Linked DNA regions of Homo sapiens: region 2 is linked to region 1. Evidence: fine-mapped expression QTL. A gene starts in region 1. The other region holds a variant in brackets. All regions are shown on one strand. Distances are from middle to middle. Region 1 holds the start of DKK1 (dickkopf Wnt signaling pathway inhibitor 1). Region 2 has its middle 63 kb from the start of DKK1.

Region 1 (8,340 bases):
TCATGGGATCCTACATCTTGCTTTCTGCAGACACTGGCCTATCCTTAGGGTTGGAGATGTTAAATCCTTTGGGGACTCAAAGAGGACATTGCACTCCCTATACCCACCACCACAGACCTTTCTGAGTGTCAGGACCTCAGAAAGGATGCAGGCAGATATCTATCTGGTTAGGCACTATCTTCACTGGGTTTAGAGGCTGGAACCCAGCCTCTACTCTCAGATTAGCTTTTAATGTCTTACTCCAGTAAAACACATCTTCTGAGCTTGGTTAGAAAGCTACCACGGAGCCTGATTTATCTGGGCTGGCCATCTCCACCGCCCAAATAAATGTAATCACGGTCAAATCTTGCCCTCTGTTTGTACTGGGGAGTGCAGAAAATCCAGCTCTCAGGGGAGTCATAACATGGACCAGGTCTAAAAGTTCTTTTAACATCATGAAGAACATTAAGACCAAACTGTTTTAAAAGTCAATGAGAAAGTCATATCATTTTTTACAAAACATCAGGAATGAGGAATCCCTGCTATACTCAAGATTGACACTAACAAAAATGTTGGCAACACCCACCGTAAGGAATGATATGTATGCGGTATTTTCCTAGCAAAGTAAAATTATATGGCAACAAATCTGCTTCTTTTGATTTAATGAAGAGAAAGAAGGAAAGAAGGGAAGGAGGGAGAGAAAAAAGAAAAGAGGAAAGAAGGGAATTTAAAATACAGCAGTAGACTGGGCGCGGTGTCTCACTCCTGTAATCCCAGCACTTTGGGAGGCCAAGGTGGGAGGATCACTTGAGCCTAAGAGTTTAAGACCAGCTCTGGCTAGCAACATAGTGAGACCCTGTTTCTACAAAAAAATTAAAAATTAGCCAGGTGTGGTGGCATGCAGCTGTAGTCCCAGCTACTTGGGGGTGAGGTGGAAGAACCGCTTGAGCCTGGGAGGTCAAGGCTGCAGTTAACCACGATTGCACCACTGTGCTCCAGCCTGAGCGACAGAATGAGATCCTGTCTCAAAAAATATATAAAAATATATAAAATAAAAAAAATCAGCAGTCACAAATAATAGAGATGGAAAAATAGTTGGTGAATAGCATGGAGTGTTTTGGAGTATATTTGTCTGTCTCCCTCATGGATGAAAAGGTTGAGAAATATTCTATGCATGGCATCCAGCACTTAAAATATAAAGAAGACATGTGTTAGCATGCTGTTCCCGAGTTATGAGGTTCAATTCCACGCTGATAAGCATATTTCACCTATTCAAAAATATAATACAAAATATTAAATTTGTTACATTAATTATGATCATATTTATACCAGACTGAATAGGAGGCAGGGTTCCCTACAGGACTAAATAAACTCAGTTTAATAAACTAAATTCATCTACTCTGGCTCCCACCTCCTCTGTCACCCAGCTGTAAGAGAGACTCAGACAATCACCAGAACCCTCTCTCCTTCCTAAGACATGTTGGTCACAGTTCCTGCACATTTTTCTTGCTCTCCATGACCTAGTATCTGCCAAAATATAATCGATGTTGGAAAAATTTTTACCCCCAGCCCCATGTAAGTATGTTGTATTTCCCCAACTAGTCACAGACTGAAAGCTGAGGACAAGAAGCCTGCCTTTCATATTGTGAGATATGCTCCCAATAATGGATACTCACCGAATATTAACTGGCTGCTGATGGAACAATGAGTTTTACTATACCTCTTTATCTACCTTGCACTCTTGTTGCCAATGAACAAACCACATCCTGGAAAGGATTTTCAAATGGAGAAAAAGTACTGAAAAAATAAATTTCCTCATTTGGAACAAAGGTTTGATTTGCTATGTACTTAGCCCTCTCTGAGGACCACCCATGTAATTTCTCCCCTGAATAATTTGTGAGGTTACCTCTCCTCTGCCCACTAAATGATTTGAAGGTAGATTATATGTGAACTCATCTTTTATCACACAATATCATGTATAATGCTTAGCACAAAGTAGGAACTCAGATATTGACCAACTCATTATTAGTTTTAAACTCATGACAACTTCAGGAGCAATGTGAAAGCTGAGGAAGGAGGTAGAAGCTAGCCCATTCTTGAAACTCTATGCTTGGTTTAGCTCTCCTAGCTCAATACCACAGATTCTGTCCAGACTCAGTGAATATTGAAACATAATAGACAAATGATATGTGTTCAGAGATCAAGGTTGAATTTATGCAACAAGCTTCTTTGTTATAACAGAATTTTCCTTTTGTTGATTAAATTGTTCCACTTTCTCTTCTTTTGCCCCAGGCAATGGATTTTTTTTGTGAAGCCAAGCTTTTAATGAACCAAGTTCATTAAATGTATTAATCATATACTATCTCTTCAGAAAAAAAGGCAAGAGATTGGCCTTTAGTGTGGCACAAATATATTTCTAGATTCAAAATATTTAAACAGGTTAATAGGACTAAAAAGAAACATTTTCAACCTTCTGATTGGCAGGCGGATTTTTCTCTACGTTTCAAAGTCATTCAAACTTAACACAGCTTGCAGATTTCCTAGTACACTGAAGGTGCTTAACGCATTGATTCCTGACAGGATAATTTCCTGGACAGATGGAATTTGGGATGGGAAGGACACTAATATAACTAGGGTACCATTCAAGAATTGTTTAGATGATCTTCTTAATATTACCTTTGAAACTGAAGGAACTAGAACACAGACCATAGTAAATTGTGTTTTAATTACTCCTTCTCCCAGTAAACTTTAGGATTTTTTTACTTTAAGATTGTCACTGGCTTTACTTGGTGGTGGCCCCAGTTCTGACTATAGTAGGTCAGCATGTGGAGTCATTATAGACAGCCTAAATCTATACAGCTTAGAGGAAGACAAAATAAATATATCTTACTCTTTTTTAATTCAATAGTGATTATTCAATCATCTCTCCCTTTTCCAAACTCACAAAACAGTTGCTTATTTTCTGACACTTATAATATCAACCTGTTTTTAAAAGAATTATGTATGCTTTTATATTTATTGCTATAATTTTATTGTTACTACATCTTTTATTATTACTGTAATTAGAATAAAGAGAACTTTATTATTTAAAATGAGAGCTGTGTCTCATAAATATTTGTATTCACTGTGCCCCTCCCCCCACCACCCATCTCACCAAAAAATTTAAAAAATAAAAATAAGGTAACAACCCAGAGGGCAGCCCAATGCCAGGGCTCTAGGCTTCCAATAAGTTTTTGTTGAATTAAATAGATCATTTCCCATTTATAAGCATGACATCATTCTTATACACCAGCCTTACTTTATTATATCCACACACCAATTTCAATGACGTCAAATTCACTTTCTAATTCACTTTCAGCTCTTCTTCTCCTCAAGGTTGTTTCTTTTCTCCCTAGAAAGGGTATTGCGTGGTCCCGTGCAAGGTAAGACTTGGGAGCAAACCCTGCATTCGGAAGCGTTGCGATGTGATATACTAATGAGGAAGTCAGGCGCTAAGCCCTAAGGGTTTCTTATTTCTCCACATTAGCCCACCACTGAGAAGGGAGAACCGGGGAAAGGCGACTGACCTGGCACGTTGGACCCTGTCCGCTTTGGTCCCGGCCACTTTGATCTCACGCGTCTGCCTAATCAAGTTCATCTACCGCCGCGATTGCCCTGATTCAAAGAACAACATTAAATGGTTTGATTATCGGATGGTCATTTCCCTCTTCCCTCCACCCCTGATCTAATTTCTAAACGCCAGTCTCTCGCCTCCCTCTCTAAACTTCCCATCAAAAGAGAATTAGCTCTTCTTCCTTCTTACCCTCGTTTGATGTGCAAATTTCCTTCTCTTTGCACATTTTTCTCGCAGTGGCGGGGGGAGGTGGGGGAGGAGGGCAACTGAAGGACCTCAAAGCCGGGGATCTAACTCAGATCTGCAAACTGCGACTCTAAAGGGTTAATGAGCAACTTGCACCCGCCACCTGGCCCTCTCAGAGGCGTCTTGCTAGAGCCATTGAATTACAGACCGGTTTGTATTTAATACTGAATATGACTTGTGTGCACAGTCAGCGAGTATTGGCATAAAGGAGAGGGGCAAAAAGTGCTTTTGCAGAGCCTATCACCCCTCGGCTCTGTAAAGTATTTCAGATCCGGATAATTCAACCCTTACTGCCAGGCAAGGGCACCCAAGTTCCCAGAGTTCCTGCTGCCGCCTGCATTTATTAAAGTCGTCTGCTATAACGCTCGCTGGTAGCCTTCACCCCGAAGGTGAGCCGGGCCAGCCGAGCGACTAAGCAAGGGAGGGGCGGGGTGAAGAGTGTCAAAGGCCCCCCTTCATGTACACAAACACACCCCCTCCCAGCCCCTCCCAGCGCTTTGAAATCCCATCCCGGCTTTGTTGTCTCCCTCCCAAGGGGCCGGAATGCTCCGGGCCCGCGGTATAAAGGCAGCCGCGGTGGCGGTGGCGGCGCAGAGCTCTGTGCTCCCTGCAGTCAGGACTCTGGGACCGCAGGGGGCTCCCGGACCCTGACTCTGCAGCCGAACCGGCACGGTTTCGTGGGGACCCAGGCTTGCAAAGTGACGGTCATTTTCTCTTTCTTTCTCCCTCTTGAGTCCTTCTGAGATGATGGCTCTGGGCGCAGCGGGAGCTACCCGGGTCTTTGTCGCGATGGTAGCGGCGGCTCTCGGCGGCCACCCTCTGCTGGGAGTGAGCGCCACCTTGAACTCGGTTCTCAATTCCAACGCTATCAAGAACCTGCCCCCACCGCTGGGCGGCGCTGCGGGGCACCCAGGCTCTGCAGTCAGCGCCGCGCCGGGAATCCTGTACCCGGGCGGGAATAAGTACCAGACCATTGACAACTACCAGGTGAGAGGGGTCGGGCACTCAGAGGATGCTCTGACCTTGAAAGGGTCCTATCTGGAGACGAGGGAGTAGAACGTGCTGAATGTGTGCGGTTCAGGGAGCATTTGGTAACCCTGCATTTGGGAGCAGTGGGCAGTAACAGGTTTTGGAGAGGTGGACAGATAAGGACTGTGATCAGCGCCCGGGTCCAAGAGGGCGGGTACCTGGACGTCTGGGTGCCTCACCCTCTCCCCGAACCCTTCCCACAGCCGTACCCGTGCGCAGAGGACGAGGAGTGCGGCACTGATGAGTACTGCGCTAGTCCCACCCGCGGAGGGGACGCAGGCGTGCAAATCTGTCTCGCCTGCAGGAAGCGCCGAAAACGCTGCATGCGTCACGCTATGTGCTGCCCCGGGAATTACTGCAAAAATGGTGAGTCCTGAAAGCTCCCTTTCACACTAAAACTGTCCAGCCTTTGAGCGTCTATGAATTGGGCGGGGGCGGGGGGTTGGGGGGGGTGGGGGGAGAAATCTCCGCCCTGAGAACACTGCGGCGCCACCTGCAAATGGGTGTTCAGCATGCAGGATTCCGCTGAAGTATCTTCATTGCAAGTGTTTAATCGGGAAGAAGAGAGAAGTTGGGAGGTCTCTGAGGTCCTTATCTTCCTCCGTGTCCCTCAATGATTCAATACAACGGTTCACCTCGTAGTGGACTCTTCCATAAAAATTTGTCTGGGGAGAACCTTGAGGTCAATTGAGAAGGGGGATGATGAGGAGGACGATGGGATCATACAGATATCAAAGAAACCAGCTTTGGCGTTCAGCTGTCCTTTTCATTTTTCTTATTGTGATTCTCACAGTTTTGCCAGACTGGCCTCGCCTTCTGATTTTTGCTGAAACTGTTGTCAGCCAGAGGACTGATTTATCTGCATTGGCCATTTTTAAGAGAGATCTTGGTACCCTCACAACTTGACTTCTCCATCCTTCCCCCTCCCTCTACCCTCTGCTGCCTTAATATAAGTACTCCTCCCCCCAACCACAGATCCACTAACTTTTAATTTTTCAAAAGGTGGATTTAGACAGCTAAAGAGGTCTCCAGAAATAAGCTAACAGGGCGACGACCCTCCTTAGGACCCAGCAGTACTCCAGGATGAACTAAGTAAATCTCTGTAATATAGAAATTACACAGTAAAGTAACTGGCCGGTGAGATTGCAATGTTCCAGGCAGCTGGAATTGCATTTGCTTAACTTAGTCTGGTAGGACCCATATAGCACCAGGGGCAGAGAAGTTATTTTTAAGAACATTTTTAAAGTGACTGAGTTTCTTTTTCTTACCCCAAAGGTAATATTAAAATGGGCAGAAATCTCACTTGCCCCTACCACAGTTGGTGGGAAAGTATTTTAAATGGCTATACTGGGGATATTACCTATGACTGACTGTATACAGTATACACATTGGTGCTTCTGTCCATCTGGAGAGTTTTGCATTAACAGTAAAGAGGAAGTTTGGCTTGTGTTTAAAATGATGTCACTGCAATGAAGTATCTCAAGTTGATGCTGGCATAACAGACTGCCACTGTCACAGCTGTTAGCAGTAATGCATTACAACCCTGAAGTTAATCACTATTTCCTGCTTCCTTAGGAATATGTGTGTCTTCTGATCAAAATCATTTCCGAGGAGAAATTGAGGAAACCATCACTGAAAGCTTTGGTAATGATCATAGCACCTTGGATGGGTATTCCAGAAGAACCACCTTGTCTTCAAAAATGTATCACACCAAAGGTAAGGATGTTAAGACTCATTCTTAGCACATCAGAAGTGTCTTTTGAATTATTTTAGTGAAACGATGCAGGTTTAACAGTAACTATGTACTTTTTTCCTACTGTCTTCTCCTTCGTAGGACAAGAAGGTTCTGTTTGTCTCCGGTCATCAGACTGTGCCTCAGGATTGTGTTGTGCTAGACACTTCTGGTCCAAGATCTGTAAACCTGTCCTGAAAGAAGGTCAAGTGTGTACCAAGCATAGGAGAAAAGGCTCTCATGGACTAGAAATATTCCAGCGTTGTTACTGTGGAGAAGGTCTGTCTTGCCGGATACAGAAAGATCACCATCAAGCCAGTAATTCTTCTAGGCTTCACACTTGTCAGAGACACTAAACCAGCTATCCAAATGCAGTGAACTCCTTTTATATAATAGATGCTATGAAAACCTTTTATGACCTTCATCAACTCAATCCTAAGGATATACAAGTTCTGTGGTTTCAGTTAAGCATTCCAATAACACCTTCCAAAAACCTGGAGTGTAAGAGCTTTGTTTCTTTATGGAACTCCCCTGTGATTGCAGTAAATTACTGTATTGTAAATTCTCAGTGTGGCACTTACCTGTAAATGCAATGAAACTTTTAATTATTTTTCTAAAGGTGCTGCACTGCCTATTTTTCCTCTTGTTATGTAAATTTTTGTACACATTGATTGTTATCTTGACTGACAAATATTCTATATTGAACTGAAGTAAATCATTTCAGCTTATAGTTCTTAAAAGCATAACCCTTTACCCCATTTAATTCTAGAGTCTAGAACGCAAGGATCTCTTGGAATGACAAATGATAGGTACCTAAAATGTAACATGAAAATACTAGCTTATTTTCTGAAATGTACTATCTTAATGCTTAAATTATATTTCCCTTTAGGCTGTGATAGTTTTTGAAATAAAATTTAACATTTAATATCATGAAATGTTATAAGTAGACATACATTTTGGGATTGTGATCTTAGAGGTTTGTGTGTGTGTACGTATGTGTGTGTTCTACAAGAACGGAAGTGTGATATGTTTAAAGATGATCAGAGAAAAGACAGTGTCTAAATATAAGACAATATTGATCAGCTCTAGAATAACTTTAAAGAAAGACGTGTTCTGCATTGATAAACTCAAATGATCATGGCAGAATGAGAGTGAATCTTACATTACTACTTTCAAAAATAGTTTCCAATAAATTAATAATACCTACCTAAATGGTCAATATTTTTCGGACAAGGAAGAAAATCATCCACAAAAATAATACTCCAAAGTACTTGGTGATTGGCAGGAACAGGATGTGTGCCCATAAATACAGTTAACAAATACATGCAGATTTTGTACCAAACAAAATAATTTGCAGTATCTTGAGTACTACTGCATGCAAAGCAGACTTGTTCTAATTATTTTGGTTTTAAAATAATTATTAATTAAAAATCACAAATCCTTCCTCATTCCACTCTTTTTTTCTCTTGCTAGGTGAGTTTCATATTTCAAGTTTTGTTTAACCTGAAATCTATTGATTGGAATGAGGATACGGATACAGTATTTTAAAGAAAACCCACAGGAATAAAATCTAAATTTTCTTTGCATTTGTACTTGCCAGATTTCATATTGTTTATACTGAGGAAAAGGGAAAGCAAACTTCCCAATTTATACTTTTTCTGTAGTATTCTAAAGTCTGCACCCAAACCACAAAATGCTGCATTTCAGGCCTGCAAAGGATAGTAGTGACTGATCAATCGTG
Region 2 (8,340 bases), 63 kb after region 1:
GTTTTTGCAGTGGCTGGTACTGGTTGTTCCTTTCCATGTTTAGTGCTTCCTTCAGGAGTTCTCGTAAGGCAGGCCTAGTGGTGACAAAATCTTTCAGCATTTGCTTGTCTGTAAAGGATTTTCTTTCTCCTTCACTTATGAAGTTTGGCTGGATATGAAATTCTGGGTTTAAAATTCTTTTCTTTAAGAACGTTGAGTATTGTTCCCCACTCTCTTCTGGCTTGTAGGGTTTCTACAGATAGATCTGCTGTTAGTCTGATGGGCTTCCCTTTGTGGGTAACCCGACCTTTCTCTCCGGCTGCACTTAAAATATTTTCCTTCATTTCAACCTTGGTGAATCTGATGATTATGTGTCTTGGGGTTGCTCTTCTTGAGGAGTATCTTTGTGGTGTTCTCTGTATTTCCTGAATTTGAATGTTGGCCTGTCTTGCTACGTTGGGGAAGTTCTCCCGGATAATATCCTGAGGAGTGTTTTCCAACTTGGTTCCATTCTCCCCTTCACTTTCAGGTATACCAATCAAATGCAGGCTTGGTCTTTTCACATAGTCCCATATTTCTTGGAGACTTTATTCATTCCTTTTCACTGTTTTTTCTCTAATGTTGTCTTCACCCTTTATTTCATTAAGTTGATCTTCAATCTCTGATATCCTTTCTTCTGCCTGGTCAGTTTGGCTATTGATAATTGTATATGCTTCACGAAGTTCTTGTGCTGTGTTTTTCAGCTCCATTAGGTCATTTATGTTCTTCTCTAAACTGGTTATTCTAGTTAGCAATTCCTGTAACATTTTTTCAAGATTCTTAGCTTCCTTGCATTGGGTTACAACATGCTCCTTTAGCTCAGAGGAGTTTGTTATTACCCACCTTCTGCAGCCTATTTCTGTCAACTCGTCAAACTCATTCTCTGTCTTGTTTTGTTCCCTTGCTGGAGAGGAGTTGTGATCCTTTGGAGAAGGGGCATTCTAGTTTTTGCAACTTTCCAGCCTTTTTGCACTGGTTTTTCCTCATCTTCGTGGATTTTTCTATCTTTGGTCTTTGTTGTTTGTGACCTTTGGATGGAGTTTTTGCATGGTCATCCTTTTTGTTGATGTTGATGCTACTGCTTTCTGTTTATTAGTTTTCCTTCTGACAGTCAGACCCCTCTTCTGCAGGTCTGCTGGAGTTTGCTGGGGGTCCACTCCAGATCCTGTTTGCCTGGATATCACCAGCAGAGGCTGCAGAATAGCAAAGATTGCTGCCTGCTCCTTCCTCTGGAAGATTTGTTCCAGAGGAGCACCTGCCAGATTCCAGCTGGGGCTCTCCTGTATGAGGTGCCTGTTGACCCCTGCTAGGAGATGTCTCCCAGTCAGGGGCACGGGGTCAGGGACCCACTTGAGGAGGCAGTCTGTCCATTAGAAGAACTTGAGCGCTGTGCTGGGAGATCCTGCTGGTCTCTTCAGAGCCAGCAGGGAGGAACGTTTAAGTCTGCTGAAGCTGGCCCACAGCCGCCCCTTCCCCCAGGTGCTTTGTCCCAGTGCGATGGGAGTTTTATCTATAAGACCCTGACTGGGGCTGCTGCCTTTCTTTCAGAGATGCCCTGCCCAGAAAGAAGGAATCTAGAGAAGCAGGCTGGCTACAGTGTCCTTGTGGCACTGCATGGGCTCTACCCAGTCTGAACTTCCCAGTGGCTTTGTTTACACTGTGAGGGGAAAACCACCTACCCAAACCTCACTAATGGTGGATGCCCTTCCCTGCACCAAGCTTGGGCCTACCAGGTCGACTTCAGACTGCTGTGCTGGAAGCAAGAATTTCAAGCCAGTGGACCTTAGCTTGCTGGGCTCTGTGGGGGTGGGATCCACTGAGCAAGAGCACTTGGTTCCCTGGCTTCAGCCCCCATTCCAGGGGAGTGAATGGTTCTGTCTCGCTAGGGTTCCAGGTGACACTGGGGTATGAAAAAAAACTCCTGCAGCTAGCTCAGCATCTGCCTAAACAGCAGCCCAATTTTGTGCTTGAAACTCAGGGCCCTTGTGGTGTAGGTACCCGAGGGAATCTCCTGGTCTGTGGGTTGTGAAGACTGTGTGAAAAGCATAGTATCTGGGCCGAATAGCACTGTCCCTCACATCACGGTCCCTCACGACTTCCCTTGGCTAGAGGAGGGAGTTCCTGACCCCTTGTGCTTTCCAGTGAGGTGATGCCCCACCCTGCTTCTGCTTGCCTTCTGTGGGCTGCACCTGCTGTCTAATCAGTCCCAGTGAGATGAACTGGGTACCTCAGTTGGAAATGCAGAAATCATCCACCTTCTGCATTGGTCTTGCTGGGAGCTGCAGACCGGAGCTGTTCCTATTCAGCCATCTTGCCCAGGCTACATTTAATTTTTTCATGTTAGCCATTATTATATGAAATTTCTACTCAAATCTTTTCTCCTCATTTTAAAAAATGGGTTGTCTTATTATTATTGAGTTGTAAGAACACATTATTTATTCAGGATATGGTCTTTTATTGGATTTATTATTTCCAAATATTTTCTCAATGTCAATGTGTTGTCTTTTCATTTCTCTACTGGTATTTTTAAAGTTAAATTTTGATTCTGTCCAATTTACTAATAAAAATTTACTGTTACGCATTTTGTGTTCTATTTAAAAATTCTTTGCCTAACCCAAGGACATGAAAATTTTCTTCTTTTTTTTTTTTTTCCTAGAAGCTTTATATTTTTAACCTTTACATACAGATTCAGCTATCTTGAACTAATTTTTTTATATGGAGAGAGAGATAAATGTATGAATTCATCTTTTTGCATATAGACATCTAAATGTCTCAGCACCATTTGTTGAAAAGACAATTCTTACCCCATTGCTTGAAAATTCATTAAAAATTAACGGACTGTCATTAGCTTTTGATGGTTCCATACAGCCTGCTGAATCCATTCAAACTCTCCAGCCTGACTTTGTGGCTCTCCCACCCCCAGCCTCAGGGATACATCACAATGTATTAACACTCAGTATTATCTTTCACTCCTCTCCATTACTCTGTGTACCAATTAACCTAAATCAGTTGATTCCTAGTATGTGTTATGCTTTCCAATGAAATCTAGTTACTTACTTTACAACATTATTCCGCCTCATTTTTAGATGTTTAAATCTTACCTATTCATTTTAAATCCCACTTCATGGCTGGCTCTTCTGAGAAGCCTTCCTCCTACTAGATGGGATCTTTTCTCCTCTGAATGACCATGGCTCTCAACTTGTATGCCTTTGGATATGTGCCATTTTCTATTTTGCATTATAATAGTTCTGAAAATGCCTGTCTCCATTGTGGAATTAAAAGTTTTTTGAGAGAGGGTTTGATTTGTGTTCAGTTGATACTCAATCACTGTTTTTTGATTGAATGAATGAATAATATTACATGTAACTGCCCTTACAGGTTTAACAGTAAGCTATTTGCTGATAGACTGCACTATCTGAACTCAAAGCCCAGGA[AC/A]TTTGCTTAAGTCCACAAAGATTTGCTAATTCTTCACGAGAGAGTTACTGAGTCTGATTAAAATGTGTTTTCTTTTATCAGAAGGGTAAGACTCTTATCTGCTGTTTTCCAAGGTCTTGGTGACTGTTTTTGAACATGAAGATCAAAGGGCAGTGCCCTTCCCCCCAACCAATTGTAAGACATTTCAGAAAGTTAAATGTGAGGAATATTGTATTCAAATGTGAATTATATGAATGTGAATACTGAACAGTATTCACAGTTACACATTTGACATTTTGAAACAGTGGCAAGACAAATGTATTAGATTTACAGGTAGTTGTGAATGTTTCCATTGCTCAGTCAATATATTTTTTCTTTTCATAGCAACATTTGGAAGGTAGGTGCTCTGACTCACACCTTTTCATTTCTTGGCTTTCCAAAGAGCCGAGAAAAAAAATTTTTTTGACCCTTGAAAACACTAGATGCATAAGAAAACAGCATGGCAAGGAAACTTACTACATTCTGACTTCAGGAATTTGCCAGCATGGAAGGGTCTTTTCAAAAGTGAGGTGGAAATTCAGGATAAAACAGAGAGATTTAAAGTAGGGTGATCTGGAGAGTAACAAAAAGATCAGAGTAGGGGTGGGGAGGATTATGGAAGAAAGAAGAAAAGATGAGATGGAGTGAAGAAGATGGTAAAGTCTTTCCATAGACTTAAATAAGCTTTAGGCAATTATCGGAACTTTCAAGGGAATTATCTGAACTGCACATCTAAATTTGTTGAGGTTCCCCCATTGTAGCTAGTATCTGGTTAAGGTTTGCCTGGTAAACTTGCTTTTTTTGTGCCATGAGTGGCTTACAAGTCGAAATGATTCAGTGAAATCTTCAAAGTAAATCTGTGTCCACCAAAGCAGTTCACAGACCTGTTTGCAACTTTTCTATCCGTCTCCTAGACTATCTCCGATGATGCAGTCTTTGGACATTACATCTGCTATTTGAACACAGAACTCATTTTATCAAAAGAAACAAGAGTGCATTCCAGTCCACAATTTTAATGAATATCTTGGTAAGGATTCCAGACTCTTCCCTAGAAGATAAAAAGTTAAGTAAGCAAGTCATATACACACCTGGCTTTGACAATTGAATAATTAAAGAGATCGGCAAAGATAAATCTTTGGTTGCCAGAAAAATCATTAGAAGCACTATGTTGTTTTGTACATCTTAATGCAGCTCAAAATCTTAAAAAAATTTCAAAACGGAAATAAAAATATTGAATCACTATGATAATCAGTTTGTAAACTGAAACAAGCAATGAGAAAGAAAAAATTGGCAGATGGTGGGGGTGGACGAAAAAGTGGCAAATTCACGTGAGTGATGGAAACTCCCAAGTGCTGTATCTTATGCTTGGTACATGAGTGTTTGAGTTCGGGTGTTAGTTTGTCAATGGCTATGTGTCAGAACTGAGCATAAGGGTTTTTAGATATCCTTTATCATACTCAAACAAACCTTTCTCATTCCACAGTCAGATATTTTAGAATCCACAAAAACACAGAATTCACTGGGAGGAAACTACTTTGTAGTTACCTGATGAAGCAATAGGAATCACACAACTTTCATTGAACTGCTGGGGGTAAAGTGGATTGCTGGCCTTTTATCTTTTATCTCTGAAATTGGCCCCCCAGCAGTAGCTTTGTTAAATCTGACACATCTTGAATTTGCCTTTTTTAAATTGCAAATATAGCAGCTAGTGGTTTTATCTTTTTCAGTACCTATACTTCCACATTTTGAAGAGACTATTTTTAATGAGACTATTGTTAGCTACTTTAAAACATGTGGCATTCAGTTTTTAACAGGTTCAATTGGACGTCTTCCCCCAAGTGCAGAGGAAGCATTTATAAAACAAACAAATAAAAGGTAAGAGGAATAAATATGGGGTATTTGTGATGTACGGCGATACATTTTGAAAAGAGCAACATTCATAATAAGAAAGGGAAGTTTATCCAAAACACTGAAAATAAGCAATAACCTGGGTCCAGATACTTTTCTATTCTCCTGGCACCTGAAGAAATATTAATTTTATTTTAGCTAGAAAATAAACACACACACACAAAGACACAGACCCATACACACAGCATGTACATTTGTTTTCTAAAGAAAACAACCTTCTGGTTCTGCTTTTTTAATATGAGGCTGACTGAACAATTGTTAATATTTTACTTTTACATTTGTAGATGTTTTATCTTAGGAGATAGCTGTCAGATTCAATCAGCTTTTGAAATCGGTTTTTGCAGAAGATAACTTAACTTTAATGTATTGTATTTCCTCCCGCAATTACTAATTACTGAAGATTAATGTTTTCAAATAAGGCCTTTTCTCCATATAATCCGTCTCCTCTTCCTGCTTCAATCTAGCAAGAAACCTGCTGAAAGAGGTCATAATCCTATTGTTTGCAATATTATAGCCTATGACACTGGGAATGTTTAGGGTGTAATGACTGCAGTAAGAATCTTTGTGAGCAAGTAGAAAGTACAGATCATGAAAGAAATTAAGTTTCTCTGGTGGGTGATTTAACTGTGATGGGTTTTCTTGTCAGTTTGTTAACAATCTGCCTTTCAATGAATCTCGAAGCAGACTCAAAGCTGATTAAAAGCAGCATAGACTATAAGTAATATTGTGTAAACACTACCAAAGCGGGAGTTTCTTTATTACTCAGCTCTTATCTCTAAATCACACCAATTGTGTTAAATCTGACTGAGAGAGGCATGTTCTTCTTGGGTTTGGCCACCATAGAAATTTTACCTGAATTGCAGACATACAGGTATGGACCAGTTATTCTCTACTTTTTTAATTTATGTCCACGCTTTTATGATTTTTGACATATATACATTTATTATATAACTTTCACAATCTTATAATTTGTGGGCTTTATTTAAAATTTGTTATAATGATCCACTTTCAGTTACATGCATATTTATTTAATGTCTTGAATTAATATTTTGGTGTTGGTAACATTAATATGATCAAATTTTGAGAACTCCATTAAAATGCTATATACCTGAATAAAATGTATTTGATATTTCCCCCAAATAACAATTTTTTTTTTTTTTTTTTTTTTGAGACGGAGTCTCGCTCTGTCGCCCAGGATGGAGTGCAGTGGCGCGATCTCGGCTCACTGCAACCTCCGCCTCCCGGGTTCACGCCATTCTCCTGCCTCAGCCTCCCCAGTAGCTGGGACTACAGGCGCCCACCAACACGCCCGGCTAATTTTTTTTTGTATTTTTAGTAGAGACGGGGTCTCACCGTGTTAGCCAGGATGGTCTCGATCTCCTGACATCGTGATCTGCCTGCCTCGGCCTCCCAAAGTGCTGGGATTACAGGCGTGAGCCACCATGCCCGGCAAAATTTTTTTTTTCAGAATGAAGACGGTCCAGAGTTGAATGGTGAAATATACAAAACATTTAAGGAAAAGAGCATTGCTTGCTTTATTCCTCAGAACTACTTTGTTGATTCTCATGAAGAAATAAAGAAATCATCTGCATTCATTTTTATATACCAAAATCTTATTTATTTTTAAAGCAAATAAGAATCTGTAACAATACAAATGCAATGTGTTAACTCAGTACACATGTAAACATTTATTTTTATTTGCAACAATGCAGAACTCTATAAAAACTAATATAGCAACTATAAATGTATTTGGAAAGAGGTTGCTGAATGTTCTTCTGCTGTTGTGGGCTGTAAAGGTATTTCCTTGCCTCTCTTTCTTGTGATTGCTCAAAAAGCAATCAATGTTGAATCTTAAGAAATTTGTTACTAATTTAGAGTCTTGAAATTGTACTGAGACACTTCCTTGAATCTAAACACTAATCCCATTGAATTTTACATCTTTTGTAGAGGATAACATTAGATAATTGCATGGAAATGCTAAGGATAATTACATTTAAAAGTGTGGAATGACCAACAAATGTAAGATGTGATCGTCATTATGTATTTAAAGTTGAAGAATTAAAAACAAATATTTGTCATTAAAAATAAACCAATATAATTAAGGACAATAAGGACTTATAATTCATTGGAAAATAATGGTAATTCATGGGTTCATACTGATAATAGAGAGCTAGCTAGAGAAGCAGAGAAATGGTGGAGGAGAGAAAGTTCTTTCTCTTTTAACTTTAATTTAGATTCAGGGATATATGTACAGGTTTGTTACATAGGTAAACTTGTGTCATGGAGGGTTGTTGTACAGATTATTTCATCACCCAGATACTAACACTAGTATCTAGTAGTTATTTTTTCTCATCCTCTGCCTCCTCCCACCTTCTACCCTCAAGTAGACCCTAGCGTCTCTTCCCCTCTTTGTGTCCGTAAGTTCTCATCATTTAGTTTCCACTTATAAGTGAGAACATGTGGTATTTGGTTTTATGTTCCTGCAAAAGACATGATCTCATTCTTCCTGATGACTGCATAGTATTTTGTGGTGTATATGTACCACATTTTCTTTAACCAATCTGTCATTGATGGGCATTTAGGTTGATTTGATTTCTTTGCTATTGTGAATAGTGCTGCAATGAACATTTGTGTGTGTCTTTATGGTAGAATGGTTTATATTCCTTTGGATATGTACCCAGTAATGGGATTGCTGGGTCAAATGGTAATTCTGTTTCTAGCTCTTTGAGGAATCGCCGTACTGCTTTCCACAATGGTTGAAATAATTTACAGTCTCACCGACAGTGTATAAGCATTCCCTTTTCTCTGCAACCTCACCAGGCAAGTTCAACCTCAGAGCCTTGATGAAAGCTACAGTAAATTTCCCTATAGGTGTACCCCTTCTATCAGCTTTGAAACCATTGTGATAGACTTGGATAGACTTCACATTTCTTAAGTTTCTCCATGAGAAGAATGACATGA

What was found.
Region 2: its variant is fine-mapped to the expression of DKK1 in lung (TOPMed, PIP above 0.99).

What each region holds. Positions count from the first base shown.
Region 1 is chr10:52,309,853-52,318,192 of GRCh38, forward strand. It overlaps DKK1 (dickkopf Wnt signaling pathway inhibitor 1), which reads left to right and starts at 4,429. Exons shown (of 4, transcript NM_012242.4): 1 at 4,429-4,825; 2 at 5,071-5,233; 3 at 6,443-6,583; 4 at 6,702-7,805. The coding sequence starts at 4,583. The coding sequence ends at 6,955. PRKG1-AS1 (PRKG1 antisense RNA 1) reads right to left here and starts at 4,276. Exons shown (of 6, transcript NR_038277.1): 1 at 3,782-4,276; 2 at 3,546-3,633.
Region 2 is chr10:52,373,349-52,381,688 of GRCh38, forward strand. No RefSeq gene overlaps it. Among named protein-coding and RNA genes, the nearest start is that of DKK1, 63 kb to the left of the region's middle. The variant AC/A (reference allele first, on the strand shown) is at 3,453.